Linked DNA regions of Homo sapiens: region 2 is linked to region 1. Evidence: fine-mapped expression QTL. Tissue or cell type: whole blood. Region 1 holds a variant in brackets; the other region holds the start of a gene. All regions are shown on one strand. Distances are between the middles of the regions.

The links. PIP is the estimated chance that this variant, and not a neighbour inherited with it, causes the effect.
Region 2: it holds the start of MAP3K11, and the variant in region 1 is fine-mapped to the expression of MAP3K11 in whole blood (INTERVAL, PIP above 0.99).

What each region holds. Positions count from the first base shown.
Region 1 is chr11:66,368,153-66,376,251 of GRCh38, reverse strand. It overlaps SLC29A2 (solute carrier family 29 member 2), which reads left to right and starts at 4,492. Exons shown (of 12, transcript NM_001532.3): 1 at 4,492-4,689; 2 at 4,927-5,008; 3 at 6,720-6,883; 4 at 7,053-7,192; 5 at 7,581-7,715. The coding sequence starts at 4,661. RefSeq lists a silencer at 4,037-4,796. The variant G/T (reference allele first, on the strand shown) is at 4,118.
Region 2 is chr11:65,609,179-65,617,259 of GRCh38, reverse strand. It overlaps MAP3K11 (mitogen-activated protein kinase kinase kinase 11), which reads left to right and starts at 3,039. Exons shown (of 10, transcript NM_002419.4): 1 at 3,039-4,242. The coding sequence starts at 3,504. It overlaps PCNX3 (pecanex 3), which reads right to left and starts at 1,484. Exons shown (of 35, transcript NM_032223.4): 1 at 796-1,484; 2 at 249-436; 3 at 1-10. The coding sequence starts at 948. RefSeq lists silencers at 990-1,239, 3,250-3,429 and enhancers at 1,370-1,419, 1,430-1,579, 1,860-1,949, 2,010-2,059, 1,942-2,828 and 2 more.

The DNA.
Region 1 (8,099 bases):
AAATAAATTGAAAACTTATGTCCACACAAAAACCTCCACACAATTGTGTATAGCATCTTTATTTGTGATCACCAAAACATGGAAGCCACCAAGACGTCTTGAAATAGGTAAATGGATAAACAAACCATGGCAATTCATACAATGGAGTATTATTTAGCAATAAAAATAAATGTGTTGCCTGGGCGCGGTGGCTTATGCCTGTAATCCCAGCACTTTGGGAGGTCGAGACAGGCAGATCACTTGAGGCCAGGAGTTCGAGACCAGCCTGGTCAACATGGGGAAACCCTGTCTTTGCTAAAAATACAAAAATTAGCTGGGCATGGTGGCAGGCACCTGTAATCCCAGCTACTTGGTAGGCTGAGGCAGAAGAATCACTTGAACCTGGGAGGCAGAGGTTGCAGTGAGCTGAGATCATGCCACTGGACTCCAGTCTAGGCGACAAGAGTGAAACTCCATCTCAAAAATTTAAAAAATTAAAAAAAAAAGAAATGAATTATCATGCCAAGAAAAGACATGCAGGATCCTTAAGCACACATATAAATGAAAGAAGCCAGGTTGGGCCCAGTAGCTTATGCCTGTAATCTCAGCACTTTGGGAGGCTGAGGCCGGTGGATCACTTGAGGTCAGGAGTTCGAGACCAGCCTGGCCAACATGGTGAAACCCTGTCTCTACTAAAAATACAAAAATTAGCCAGGTGTGGTGGCTCGCACCTGTAATCCCAGCTACTCGGGAGGCTGAGGCAGGAGAATCGCTTGAACCTGGGAGGTGGAGGTTGCAGTGAGCCGAGATCACGCCATTGCACTCCAGCCTGGGCAACAAAAGCAAAACTCCATCTCAAATAATAATAATAATAATAATCATCATCATCATCATCATCATCATCATCATCATCATCAATGTTGAATGAAATTCAGTACACAGGTTTAACATTAGATTAAGTACAACCTAAAAATAAAATCTATTATTTATTTTTTAAAACCATGTTGATAATTTTTCTGAGCCTAGACTCTAAATCCTTTTTACATTTAGACAAAATGTATTATTTGCAAGGCTTGAATATACACAGCATTCTTCAGTAACACAGCTACTGTCTGTGTTGACGGACAGCTGCCCTTTGACTTCTTTGGAACTTGACCAGGACTTGGTCACATTTAAGAAAATCACATCCTAGCATAAAGAAAAGACAAATATTTAAGGTGATGGACATCTCAGTTGTCCTAGTTTGATCTTTACACATTATATGAATAGATTAAATTATCACATACACCCTGAAAATATGTACATCTATTATGTATCAAAAAAATAAATAAATAGGGCCAGGAGCGGTGGCTCACGCCTGTAATCCCAGCACTTTGGGAGGCCGAGGCAGGTGGATCACGAGGTCAGCAGTTCGAGATCAGCCTAACCAACATGGTAAAACCCTGTCTCCACTAAAAATACAAAAAAATTAGCTGGGCGTGGTGGTGGGCGCCTGTAATCTCAGCAATTTGGGATGCTGAGGCAGGAGAATTGCTTGAAACCGGAAGGTGGAGTTTGCAGTGAGCCAAGATTGCACCACTGCACTGTAGCCTGGGCAATAAGAGCAAAACTCTGTCTTAAAAAATAATAATAATAAGTAAAATAAAATAAAATAAATAAAAATAAAATTTAAAACATAAATGAGGAAAAAAGTTTTTTTTTAGGCCGGGCACTGTGGCTCACGCCTGTAATCCCAGCACTTTAGGAGGCTGAGGTGGGTGGATCACGAGGTCAGGAGTTCAAGACTAGCATGGCCAAGATGGTGAAACCCCATCTTTACTAAAAAATACAAAAATTAGCCGGGCATAGTGGCTTGTGCCTGTAATCCCAGCTACTAGGGGAGGCTGAGGCAGGAGAATCACTTGAACCTGGGAGGCAGAGGTTGCAGTGAGCTGAGATTGCGCCAGTGCACTCTAGCCTAGGTGACAGAGCAAGACTGTGTCTCAAAAAAAAAATTGTTTTTTTTTTTAAAGAAAAGAGGCTGGGTTTAGTGGCTTATGCCTGTAATTACAGCACTTTAGGAGGCTGAGACGGGCAGATCACCTGAGGTCAGGAGCTCGAGACCAGCCTGGCCAACATGGCGAAATCCTGTCTCTACTAAAAATACAAAAATTAGCCAGGCATCATGGCACACGCCTGTAATCCCAGCTACTCAGGAGGCTGAGGCAGGAGAATCGTGTGAGCCCAGGAGGCAGAGGTTGTAGTGAGCCAAGATCCTGCCACTGCACTCTGGCCTGGGCAACAGAGAGAGACTCCGTCTGAAAAAAAAAAAAAAAAGAAAAAAAAAGAGAAAAAGAAAAGAAAAAAAAAGGTAAGAAAAGAAAAGAAAATCCTGGCAAACTAGTGGGTCTCTGAGTGGCCAGTTTCACTGCATGCCTGTATCGCATGTGAGTTTGTAGCCGTGGATTCACTGCAGTTTTAGAAAGAAGGGCAAGCATTTGACAGCTTCATGTACCATGAATATTAACACATTCACACACACCATGTTATTACTAAATAATTTCCCTTATGATTCATCTGCAGTAAAATCAGGATATTATCTCGACATCAAATGTTATTGTGTATAGGTAGGTTTTGTTTTATATGAGTTTCATTGCAGGATAGTAACAAAATATTTATTACAAGGACGATGGAATCGGCTCCAGCTGACCGTCTGTGCTTTGAAATGAAATCTGAACTCCTTAATCAGCCCTCAGACTTGCCATAACCAGCCTGGCTGTTGTAGAGGCTCTGTCCCCTCCTCCCACCAATGCCAGCCAAAGGGATCTATTTGTATGTCCCAGAATGTGTCAGCACTCTCTTGTCCCTTGTCTTGGGACAGGCTGTTCTCTCCCTGAAATGCCCTCATCCTCTCCCTTCACTGTCTCAACAAATTCAGTGCTCCCTAGCCTCCATTCTCAAGTCCTTCCTTCACAACCTGTGCCATAGCTGTGCTGCACCAGCGGCCTCGCTTTTCTTTAAATAACTCATTTTCCATAAATAAATTGATTTTTCAAAGAAAAGTTGATATCATAATCATAAATAGGAAACCAGTATGAGTAGCCCTGAAAATAAAGTTGCTATAAAAATAAATATAAGAAAAATACAAGTTAATAACTTTTGATAAAATTGTCAGCAGACCCTCTGAGGCTAACTGAGGGGAAGGGATGGGAAGGCAGATTAAGAAGTGTTAGCAACCTGTTAACACCCTTGACATATTCAGAGGCTTGAAAGAAAATGGGAAGAATAACTTTCTCTTTCGGTGTAATTTAATGCTGTCTCTGTTCTCCCTAAAATCACCTGCATTTTACTGCAACCACCCATTTATCACTCAACGGCGCTAGATGCTGCCAGTAAACCAATGGACCAGATAAGCACAGCCTCTGCCCCTACAGACTCTCAGTCGGCTGGAGGAAAAACATAAGCAACCTGGGAATGGCTATAAAATGTCATTGCTTAAGAAAATAGTTTGTGGCCGGGCGTGGTGGCTCACGCCTGTAATAGCAACATTTTGGGAGGCCGATGCGGGCGGATCACCTGAGGTCAAGAGTTCGAGACCAGCCTGGTCAAAAGATGAGTTCGAGACTAGACTGGCCACCTCTTCAGTAGAGCTGGTGAAGCCCCGTTTCTACTAAAAATACAAAAATTAACCGGACGTGGTGGCATGCGCCTGTAGTCCCAGCTACTCCTGAGGCTGAGGCACCAGAATCGCTTGAACCTGCCTGGGAGGGGGAGGTTGCAGTGAGCCAAGATCACGCCACTGCACTTCCGCCTGGGCGACAGAGCGACACTCAGTCTCAAAAAAACTAGTTTGTGTTTTGGAGCCTCTCACTTCTCCAGCGTCCCCGATACGCCCGGGGATTGCAGAGAACCCACACCTATTCGTAGATTATGAGAGTAGGAGCAAATTAATGATTTATAGTCTTTTCAAATTTTTTTTTTTAACAGAAAAAGAGTAGGGAGTTGAAAGTAATGCTGTTTTTTTCCAGGCACTCCCGGGGACCCAGCGCGGCGAAGCCCGCCAGGATCGCGGGCGACCTGTGGCAGCTCTGGTTCCCCCGCCCGGGCCCGGCTCGGGTTACGCTCTGGGCGGGGACTCCGCAGCGGCTCCCTAGTTAGG[G/T]GGCGCCCCGGTGGGTTCCAGCTTTAGGGGTCGCAGGAGCGGCTCTGGCATCACCTCGGAGCTGACGAAGCGGGAAGAGCCCCGCACCAGTGCTGCCCCTACAGAGCTCTCGGCGGGGGGTGGAGGTGAGGTTACACCTCGTCCCTACCCCCGCCTTCCCCTCCGCCGCAGGGATCCGGGACCCGCCCCCGCGGAGAGGACGGGGGGCTGCGGGGAGGGGCTGTGCGGGGAGCGGGCGGGTTCCGCAGGCCCCTAGGTGGGGCGGGGCCCGAGCCAGAGTCGAGTCCCTGAGGCGGGTGGGGGAAGGAGAGACGGGTGGCGCGACCCTCTGTCCCCGCCTCGGGGCGGAGCCCAGGTCCCAGCCTGCGGAGCGCGAGACACGCCGAAATCCGCCCGAGGCTACCTGTGCGACTCCAGCCGCCCTGCACCGGAATCTGGGGAGACCCGCCCCCCGCCCCACCGGTCTGCGGCCCTCCGCCCCAGCGCAGGTGCAGGTGCGGCTTCTCTGCCCCTTTCACCCCAGGCGCATCCGCCGCGGCGGCCATGGCGCGAGGAGACGCCCCGCGGGACAGGTGAGTGGGCCCGGGTGCGTTGCAAGTGGCCGGGGGCGTTGCAGACCCGCTCCCTGAAGGCGCTCCGAGGCTCAGAGAAGACCGGATCGAACTACAATTCCCATCAGCCGACTCCCTCGGCCGCCGGAACCGGGGTGATCGGGGTTGTAGTCCGCTCCGGAGGGGGTGGCCTGGGAGGCGGGAGGGCCTGCGGAGGCGGGTGCGTCCTCGGGGTGACCTTCCCACCGATCCCCACAGCTACCACCTGGTCGGGATCAGCTTCTTCATCCTGGGGCTGGGCACCCTCCTTCCCTGGAACTTCTTCATCACCGCCATCCCGGTGAGACTCCTGGCGGCGTGGCAGCCTCGTGGCCACAGCCAGCACCCCTCCCTCCAGCCCTTTGGATGAAGCTTAGCGGGCGCTTCCTCACCGCGCACCTGTGACCCCTCGTTGAGCTCATTATGGGCTGAAGCTCGGAGAGGGGAATGCTTCCCCCGTGGCTAGGAAAGTAGAACTTCAGCAATGCCCACATCTCAGAGGGGCAAGGCCACCAGCCCACAGGGTCTGGAATGAGCAAAGGCGCTGCCACCCCTCTCTGTGTGTCGTTATTCCTGAGTCAGTCACCCCAAAAGTCGGTTATCGAACGTTTGATTTTCTTTGAAATACCATGAATTTCATTCATTCACTCATTCATTCAACAAACTTTTTTTTTTTTTTTTTTTTTGAGACAGAGTCTGGCTCTTTCGCCCAGGCTGGAGTGCAGTGGCGCCATCTCGGCTCACTGCAAGCTCCGCCTCCCGGGTTCACGCCATTCTCCTGCCTCACCCTCCCGAGTAGCTGGGACTACAGGCGCCCGCCGCCACGCGCGGCTATTTTTTTTTGTATTTTTAGTAGAGACGGGGTTTCACCGTGTTAGCCAGGATGGTCTCGATCTCCTGACCTCGTGATCCTCCCGCCTCGGCCTCCCAAAGTGCTGGGATTACAGGCGTGAGCCACCGTGCCCAGCCTCATTCAACAAACTTTTAATGTGCATCTACTGTGGAGCAGGCACTGGGGACACAGGAGGAAACAGCAGGGAGGCTCTTCAGGGAAGGCAGAAATGTGGGGTTTGCATTGTCTTTGGGACCGGGTTATTCATCTGTATTCACTGCAACAACTTTGCAAATGCTTCTTGGGTACTGGCTCTGTGCTGGGCCCTGGAAACCCAGAGATGAATCAGCCCCTGGGCTTGAGAGCAAGAGGGGGCCAAAGAGCTATTAATAATGTAACATGATGCGTGACATTCCAGGCTTGCAGCAGAGTGCAGTGGGTCCCCAGGGGAGGGAGAAAGTTCCTTCTGCTTCATGGAAGAGGAGATTTGTAAATTGGGAGTAGGGTAGGCAAAGTGCATGTGGAGGGGTGTGGTCAGTAGGGCATTCCAGGCCGAGGCGACAGCCATGCCAAAGGCAGGCAGGCAAGAGACGATCAGCCTGTTTAGAGGGAGATCCACAGCCAGGGCTGCCTGGAGCTTAGCAGGATGGAGCAGAAGATGGGGCACAAAGGGAGACTAGGATCTGATTCTGAAGAGCTGTTCCATTTGGGGCTTTGCCCTGCAGGCAATAGGGAGGCATGAATCGGGGTGTTGAGGAGTGAGGAGGTTAAGCAGAGGAGTGGCAGGCTATGTGCTCTAGAGAGAATGCAGTTGTTCAGCACCTAGGCCAAAGCCTGGCTGACAGTAGGCGCTCAATAAATACCCGTGGAATGAATGAATGTAGCAGCTGCTGCAGGAGTGGGGATGGGGGCTGGAACCAGGGCACTGAAGAGGAGGGGCCGTCCAAGGCTGGATCGAGGCTCTTGCTGGGGGCTCTTAATGCTTAGGCTGTGTCCCAGACTTCAGCCATTTAACTCAGCACACATTCATGGAGCTCCGACTGTGTGCCGGCTGCTGGGAACAGAACAAGGACAAGGCAGACAAGTCCCCACAGACATTAGAAAGCAATCACAAGTGAGGGGGAAGGCAGCGGGGGAAGGCTGAGAGGTGCTGACCCTCCACCACCTCCCCACCTGGCAGTACTTCCAGGCGCGACTGGCCGGGGCCGGCAACAGCACAGCCAGGATCCTGAGCACCAACCACACGGGTCCCGAGGATGCCTTCAACTTCAACAATTGGGTGACGCTGCTGTCCCAGCTGCCCCTGCTGCTCTTCACCCTCCTCAACTCCTTCCTGTACCAGTGGTGAGAGGCCTGCCCTGGCTCCTGCGCCCTCTGCCGAGGCAGCTTCATTGAGGCCCTCCCCTGCGCCCCCTGCCCCCCAGCCCTACTGCCCAGCCCCAGGTGTCGAGCCTCCTTCCCCAGCCCCCTCTGGCCTGGGCCCCACTGATGCACTCTGCCTGCTTCTGAGCAGCGTCCCGGAGACGGTGCGCATTCTGGGCAGCCTGCTGGCCATACTGCTGCTCTTTGCCCTGACAGCAGCGCTGGTCAAGGTGGACATGAGCCCCGGACCCTTCTTCTCCATCACCATGGCCTCCGTCTGCTTCATCAACTGTGAGCACCTCCACCCCCTCTCCAGCCAGCCTATGCAGGGCTTCAGCCTGGCCTCATCATTGAAAGGGCCCAGCATATCCGAGAAGGGCAGACAGCATCATGGTCGCTCATATCCCTGGTGAAGAAACTGAGGCCCACAGGGAGGGGAAGAGTCACTTGTCCGGTGACCTAGGAGCAGGCCTCCTGGTCAACAGCCCCACAGACCAATGGCTGCACCTCAGAAGAGGACTGAATAGCGGGTGTTGCCCCCGAGTGCTCAGAGTCCCTAGGGAAGCTCACACCTGCGCAACCTTGTCCAGAGTCCCCTGTGTATCCTGCCGGCACCTCCTCCAGGGAGCCTCTGAGTCTTGCCTAGTTGAGCAGCAGCCCCCATCCCTGTCCTCCACAGCCTTCAGTGCAGTCCTACAGGGCAGCCTCTTCGGGCAGCTGGGCACCATGCCCTCCACCTACAGCACCCTCTTCCTCAGCGGCCAGGGCCTGGCTGGGATCTTTGCTGCCCTTGCCATGCTCCTGTCCATGGCCAGTGAGTGCACTTGGGTGGCTGGAGGGCTGGGGTGGCCTCTGAGGTTTGGGGAAGAGAGAGGGCATGTGAGAGCAAGACACATGGGTTCTGGGTGAAGATGGAGGTAAGCAGGTGATATGGAAATGGGGATTGGGTCTGGGGCTAGGGAGTGGGGCTCATGGGCCCTGCAGTGAGGAGTAATAACCAAGTGAGGACTGGGTTAACTCAGGGACAGGGGCAGGATTCCTGGGGCTAATACTGGCATGTGGCAGCAGGTTGAAGTTGAAGGATAAGGGGATGGGTTTGGGATTCAGATAGTCTTGGGTTTGAATCTGCTTCACCGCTTACCAGCTAGGGGTGTTGGACAAGGCTTGTCACCTCTCTGTGCTAGCTTCCCCACCGACG
Region 2 (8,081 bases), 760 kb after region 1:
TCCGGGGTCCCTGGCGGTGAAAAAGAGCAGCAGCTTTGAGCTAACCTCTCCTCTGTGTATGCTACTTCCTCCCATCTTTGTCACTGCTTCTTTTTCAGAAGTCACTTTACAATTCCAGGGCTAACACAGGACAAGTGTTCACAATCACTCAGAGAGCCAATGTTCCCTAAGCCCCTACTCCACCCTGCAAGGTTCCGGCCCAGGCACCAAAAACCCTCAATCCCCAGCACAGCCCCTACCCCACCCACCTGGGTGGATTGCTGTCCCCCTGGGCAGGCTCTTCCTCCAGCTCCCCCATGGTAGAGCTGCGCTTCTCCACGATCTCGCCCTGGTCAAACATGGCATGAAGCCGATAATTGACAGTCTTGATAGTAGCAAAGATGACAGCCACCACGAGGCAGTACACGCCGGCCACCATCAAGCTGGGAGGCAGGACCTGAAGATGAAAGTAAGCCAGGTCCCTTTTCACAAAGCCTCGCCCCCACAGGATGTACCTGCCATCAACATCATAGCTGGGATTCACAGACTCACAAGAAAATTTCATCACCTCTCCACACAACCAGTACACAGACCTCGACAAAGGGCTCTGTATTCTGCTTAGCTGGATGAGATTAAGTGTAGGGTTCAAGGTCACTCGATCCAAGAAAGGAAGACTTTGGCCCCTCTTCCACACAGACCCAAACTCTGCAGTGATTCCTCTCTCTCCACGTCCCAGAGCCCAGGGCACTGCCCTGAATCCCTGCCAGGCTGCCCTCCCTCTCCCGGCTGGAGTTACAGGTGGCCGTGGCGTCTCACCATGTACAGTAAGAAGGGAAAGATGAGCAGGAAGATCCAGACATAGAGGTGGAAGCAGTTGGAGAAGGTGCTCTGGTGCGGGTCGAAGAACCAACCGCCGGTGAGCGAGGCCCACACCCCCTGGCGCAGGATCTGCAACACCTGCGACCCCATGGCCCCGCCGCTGCTGCCCGCGCCCCCCCTCCCGGGACCCTCATGGGGGCGGCCCCCGGCCCATGCCCCGTCTGGCGCCTGAGGGCCCCGGGGCCCGGCCTCACGCTCACGCCATGGCCTCCCCCAGCGGGGGAGGGGGGCTCGGCCGCGCGAGGGTGCGAGCAGGGGGCGGGGCCGGCCGGGACAGTCAGTGGTGCAAGGCCCGGACGCGGGGGTGGGGCTGCATCAGGGGCGGGGTCCGGGTCCCCACTCCTGGCCCAGAATTGCTCCGAGGGGCCGAGCCGGCAGGCAGGCGCGGGGCACGGGCCGGGTACCCGTCGGCGGCATCCAGAGGTGGTCGTGGGGTGGGTGCTCCCGGGGTGCAGGCGACAGCTCCCTAGTCTCCGGACCAGGGAGAACCCCAGGATCTGGGGTCCACTTTCGGGGTCGCAGGTCACTTGCTTGGGGCTCCGCGCTCGCCCGGCTTCTGCTGGTGCCGGCCTAAGGAGGAGGCCGGAAGAAGGAGCCGCGAACCGCCAGCCTGCAGTGGCGCATGCGCCCAACGATTCCAATTGGGACCCGGAAAAGGAAAACTTGACGGCATGAATGCGCAAGCGCAGAAAGGTGATGGCGCGGTAGGACGCGAGGGGTGCCCTTTGGGCGTGCGCAGACTCCAGGACTAAAGCAAGTTCGAGCGTAAAAGCGTTTGGGCGCATGCGTAGACCCAGGCGTTGCCAACCCAGGGTAGACGACTGGGCGGAACCAAAGAGACAGTTGAGTAGCCATTGGGTAACGGCAAAGTAATTGGCGCACAGCTCTTCCAATGAGTTACAGGAGGCGGGGAAAAGGTGGAGGCGTGGACTCCCCTAGTAGCAGCGAGAGTTCTGCACTACCGAAGCACGCCCCTCTCGGCCCGCCCCCTTTAATGCTGGACCTCGTACGTCACGACCGATTTCGCTCCCAGCGGCGTCTACTTCCGGGTCAGAGCTCAGACCTAGGGTGTAGAGAACAACCTTCCGTAACAGGCAGGAATAGTCGAAATAGGATAGCGTCGTCTTTCTTAAAGTGACAGGCTCAAAGCAATTGGGGCAGCCCTATCCAGAAGTTGTGAGGGCGACTCAGCTATTCTGAATCCAATCCTGGGCAAAGTTCTGGACAAGTCTCAGGTTTCTGCCAATGGGGAAGGGATATGAAGAAGCGGATTGTTTCCCAGGTGAGGAGAAGAAGAGAGCCTTAGGCAATCCACTCCAAGAGCTTGAGGTGCAGCCAGTTCCGTCTGTCCTCCAGTCTTCCCCACCCCATCCAACTAGCTCTACGAGGCAGAGCTTTCTCGTCCTCATATCATATATGAAAAGAATGGCCGGGCGCGGTGGCTCACGCCTGTAATCCCAACACTTTGGGAGGCCGAGGCGGGAGGATCACGAGGTCAGGGGTTTGAGACCAGCATGGCCAACATGGTGAAACCCGTCTCCACTAAAAATACAAAAATTAGCCGGCCGTGGTGCCACGCGCCGGTAGTCCCAGCTACTCGGGAGGCTGAGGCAGGAGAATCTCTTGAACCCGGGAGGCGGAGGTTGCAGTGAGCTTAGACTGCGCCATTGCATACCAGCCTGGGCGACAGAGCAAGACTCCGTCTCAAAAGAAGAAAAAAGAAAGAAAATAATGAGGCTCAGAATCGATGGATCGCACAGTCCCACAACTTCGCAGCCAAGACCAGACTCGGGTTCACCCCCTTCCCAAGTGTGGTTCTGTAACCCCGTTTTGCTGCCGCCGATGCGGATGCAGAGGGCAGAGATGGCCCATCCTTAGCAGAGACCAACCTCCACCCTAGGCAGCAGAGCACGCAGCTGGGGGCTTTTCTTTCTAGATCTCAAAAGCCTGCTGTGATGGGGGATCTGGTTCTGCCCTTTCCCTCTCTGCCTCTCCTGGCCCGCCTACCCGGGAACTCCCCGCCTGGAGCCTCTGGGAGGGGAGCGGTGCAGGCCGCCCGCGTCATCTGATGCTGTTTCCTGCAGGAGGGAGAAGAGCGGAAAAAAGTGAAACTCCACCCTCCACCTCTGCCTCCCGCCCCCGGGGCCAAAGTACAAAGGGAGGAGGAAGAAGGGAGCGGGGTCGGAGCCGTCGGGGCCAAAGGAGACGGGGCCAGGAACAGGCAGTCTCGGCCCAACTGCGGACGCTCCCTCCACCCCCTGCGCAAAAAGACCCAACCGGAGTTGAGGCGCTGCCCCTGAAGGCCCCACCTTACACTTGGCGGGGGCCGGAGCCAGGCTCCCAGGACTGCTCCAGAACCGAGGGAAGCTCGGGTCCCTCCAAGCTAGCCATGGTGAGGCGCCGGAGGCCCCGGGGCCCCACCCCCCCGGCCTGACCACACTGCCCTGGGTGCCCTCCTCCAGAAGCCCGAGATGCGGGGGGCCGGGAGACAACACTCCTGGCTCCCCAGAGAGGCGTGGGTCTGGGGCTGAGGGCCAGGGCCCGGATGCCCAGGTTCCGGGACTAGGGCCTTGGCAGCCAGCGGGGGTGGGGACCACGGGCACCCAGAGAAGGTCCTCCACACATCCCAGCGCCGGCTCCCGGCCATGGAGCCCTTGAAGAGCCTCTTCCTCAAGAGCCCTCTAGGGTCATGGAATGGCAGTGGCAGCGGGGGTGGTGGGGGCGGTGGAGGAGGCCGGCCTGAGGGGTCTCCAAAGGCAGCGGGTTATGCCAACCCGGTGTGGACAGCCCTGTTCGACTACGAGCCCAGTGGGCAGGATGAGCTGGCCCTGAGGAAGGGTGACCGTGTGGAGGTGCTGTCCCGGGACGCAGCCATCTCAGGAGACGAGGGCTGGTGGGCGGGCCAGGTGGGTGGCCAGGTGGGCATCTTCCCGTCCAACTATGTGTCTCGGGGTGGCGGCCCGCCCCCCTGCGAGGTGGCCAGCTTCCAGGAGCTGCGGCTGGAGGAGGTGATCGGCATTGGAGGCTTTGGCAAGGTGTACAGGGGCAGCTGGCGAGGTGAGCTGGTGGCTGTGAAGGCAGCTCGCCAGGACCCCGATGAGGACATCAGTGTGACAGCCGAGAGCGTTCGCCAGGAGGCCCGGCTCTTCGCCATGCTGGCACACCCCAACATCATTGCCCTCAAGGCTGTGTGCCTGGAGGAGCCCAACCTGTGCCTGGTGATGGAGTATGCAGCCGGTGGGCCCCTCAGCCGAGCTCTGGCCGGGCGGCGCGTGCCTCCCCATGTGCTGGTCAACTGGGCTGTGCAGATTGCCCGTGGGATGCACTACCTGCACTGCGAGGCCCTGGTGCCCGTCATCCACCGTGATCTCAAGTCCAACAACAGTGAGTTTCTGGGGGCATGGTTGGGGGTGGCATGGCTCTGGTACACACCTGCTCCCAACCTTCCACTGAGCCTAGCTTAGGGTCTACTGCAGGTAGGAGCTCCCACCCTAGGGGGTCCCAGCTGACCAGGGGTGCCCATGGGCTCAAGCTAGCCCCCAAACAGAGCCCCAGGCACCCAGCAGAGTCTTCCTGCGCCAGCTTCAGAAGTCCTTGACCCCAGCCTGCAGCTGCGGTTTGGACAAGTTAAGAAATTGGTATCTCTCAGGTGGGCCATAAGCATCCTGCCCAGCCATGGCTCCCACCTCAAGGAAGTCCTCTGGAAGCTCGTGCTCCTCATCTTCTCCTCCCCTAAATTCATGTTCGTGGAGTTGGTGCTCTGTCCTCCCCTCCCGTCGTCATGGGCAGCTCCTCCAGAACAGATATCTCAGAGAGGGAAGCCCTCCTTGGCAGTCAAGGCTAAGGCCAGGGCTGGAATTCTGGCCTAGCCCTCCCTGGCTTCATGACCTCTAGCTGGTTACTCCAACTCGGAGCCTCAATTTCAGAATCTGTAAAAAGGGAGAGTGAAACAGCTCAACAGCTTGGGCAAGCCCGACCTGCGATCCCCAACCCACAGCGGGTCCTCAGCCATGGAGATGGACATTTGAGGGCTGGATCGCCAAGAGGGCCTAGCCTGAAATCAGTGCTTGGGATGGGAGTGCTGGGCTAAGGGAGACTCCATCTCCCATCATTTCAAGCCCCCGACACGCTGCCCATCATGGCCCAAGAGAAGTGAGTGACAGCTTCAGAGGGTTTCCTGGTGCACGCAGCATTTAGAGAGAGAAGGCATGGAAGCAGGACCCAGCACACAGCAGGGACCAGGAGCAGGGGCCTCCTAGAGCCCAGAGTGCAGGCTGGAGAGCAGCAGTAGGAAATGCAGGAGGGGCCAGGCTCAGTGTGGTCACTGGAAAAGCATGAGACATTCTTAGAGGGGGGTCAACGTGGATATTTTGAGCCTCCTGGCCTGGGCTGACCATGGACAAGGGGCTTGCAGGAAACAGAGTGCTGAGCCCCAGATATCCAAGTTCTTGCCAGGACTGGGGGAGCCAGGAGAGGCCTGCCAACCATCCTACCCACTCTTCTCATCCCTGGTAGGGTGCGGTTCCCACCTCTCAGCCTCAACCCTGGGCTCTAACTATCTAGGGACCCCCGCTACCTGCCCCAATCTGAGGGGGATTCCCCGAAGGCACAGGGGGAGGGGACTCCCATCTTCTGTTTTTCCTCCGTTTTCTTTCCAGAAAAAATGGAACAATAGCCCAGGCCCCTGCTCCCCACCCTCCCCACTGCTTCCTGCGTTTCCTGCTGCCCCTGAGCCGGCTTCCTGTCCCTGCTCCAGCCCCTGCTCCCTCCCTAGCCCAGCTGCCTGCAGGGGAGGAAAGAGCTTGGGGTGGAGGACTTGCGGGAGGAAGGAGCCTGGAACTGCTCCCCTACTCCCCTCTAGTTCCCCTGCTTCCCTCTCAGAGTCTGGGAGGTGGTGGTAAAGGGCAGGCAAGGTGCCCTCAGCCTCCCTGAGCCTGGCATTTAACCTCGGAGACCCCAGTCCTAGGCCCAAGTTGCTGTCTGCAGGATTGGGGTGGGGGGAGTCCCTGGGCTGGTGGGGGGCACAGGCAGGAAACAATGGCATGATTTTCCTGGACAATGGGGGCCTTGTGAGGAAGCCTGGCGGGGAGAGGAGGGGGAATTCTCCAGGCCCACGAGTCACAGGACTGACCAGCCAGCCCGGCCTGGGCCTGACCTCCCCCAGTTCTCCCCAAAAGGACTCCCCCTCCCAAGTGGGAGACCTGGCCCAGGCCTCCCAGAAAGGAGAAGTAGGGACCACGGGAGGAAAGCGGAAGAGGTGTGAGCTGCCCAGGCCACTCCCAAGCCCCACAGAGGCCAGCCCAGGGAGGGAGCTGGTGGCCAGGTCCCTATCAGAGGCCAGGGAGCCCTAAAGGGGCACTGAGAGCTTCCCCCAGTTTCGGGGTCTCTGGCCCATTCTCCTCTGGGTGACCCCTGACCTCCCATGCCTGGGATCTACATCAGACACCAGAACAGCAGTTCGAGTTGGGACAGTTGAAAGCACAGAGAGGAGCTTGGAGAGAAAGCAGAGGATGGGGCTTAGCAGCTGGCAGAGCCAGGAGCGGGGAGGTAGCAGAAAGACCACAAGTACAAAGAAGTCCTGAAACTTTGGGTGAGTTGTTGCCCCTCTCTGGGCCTCAGATTCCCCACCTGAAAAAGGTGGAGAGTGGCCACCCGGCCTGAGATACTGGAACAGCACTTTGCCAGTCTGGGGTGCCACAAGTGGCTAGAGACAGGCCAAGAAGCAGCAAGTGTTGGTCTTCAAAGGGGAAGGTGGGCCCTGGCACCAGGGGAGGTGCCCATTTCCACTCCACCCACTGCCCCAGCCTGCTGTGTTTCCCCTTTGGAATGAGCTTGTCGTCGGGGGCTTGCTAAATGCTCAGGTCCCCGCCTCCAGCAGCCAGACCAGAGGCTGTTTTGAAGTTGGCAGTAAGGAGTGACAGAGGAGGGAGAGGAGGGCGGAGATACGATAAGTGCTTTAGGACAACTGGCCTTTAGGATGCTTCTGCCAGGTGGCAGCCCCCATGCAAAAACTTTAAAAGTGTGGTCTTGTTTCATGCTCGTGACAGCCATCTGAGGAGGGTTTTGTTGTCATCCTCAGCTTGATGAAGTGTTCAGGACTCAGCTCCAAGGTCTGGCTCAGAGGAGTGGGTAGATTTTGAGACCATTCTCTGGATTAGGAAAAATTGCAGGAAAATCTACTGGGCATGCCGGGATAGTAAAGGTGGTCATGGAGGGCACCTGGACATCAGGTAGAGCTGCTGAACCAATTTGTCTGGCCTGGAGTTGCAAATGTGGAAGATGCCAGTGGGGAGAGGGAGCTGGTACCTGGAAGAGGCTGAGTCAGCCAGGGGCAGTGGGCAGAGGTTGAGGAGAGGTCATGCTCTGAGAAGCACCAGCGCCGAAATGGCTGAAGGTGGAGGACACAGAAACAGAGCCAAGCAGCCAGGGGCTGTGGGGGCTGAGGACGGTGGGGCAGCGGGGACAGCTGGCAGCAGTGCCAGATGCCTCCTCAAGGCCCAGGTGGCCTGGCCAGCAGCAGGATCAGGGCTTGTTGCTTTAAGCCCTGAAAAATGAGCACCCTGGTTCTGCCACCTCCTCTGGGAAGTCTTCCCTGACTCACCAGGCTGTATTAGGTGCCCTTCCCATCTGCCCCACCCCCTGTGCCCTATGCTGCCCCCATGACAGCCGTGTCACACAGGGCAGGAGAGCTGAGAGGTGTGCCCTGACATGGGTCCAGAAACATGGTTGACTTGATATTGCTTCTCTTCCACAGTGCAGTTGGCTGTAACCTGAAAAGTAGAGGGGCCCTTCAGACCCTTCATGACTCTATGACTTTGTCCTCTTTCTATTCCTCGAAAACTTCTCTCATTTGAGCCATTCCTGTCCTGGTGAGAGATATGCAAGTTGCTGCTTCTCCTCTTTGTACCAAGTACGGTGGCCCCATTTGGGTTAAAGCCATGAGCCCCTGCCAAGTCTGACCATCCACGCCTACATTTACCCCAAGCTCCTCCTTTGTGGCCAAGAACCATCACTTTCTTGGACCCCACCCTTTCTCTTCCCTTCCAGCTGCATTGGTAGGTATCTTTTGGAGTCTTTGCTTTGGGAGTGGCTGCACTTGCCACAGTGTGATGTGGGCACTAGGGGCCTGTGGTACCTGCTGGGCTTCTTTTCTCACCAAGAGCTTCCCTCTTGCTCCCCACTCTAAGGGGGGTTCTGATTCACGCTCCTGCCTCAACAAAATG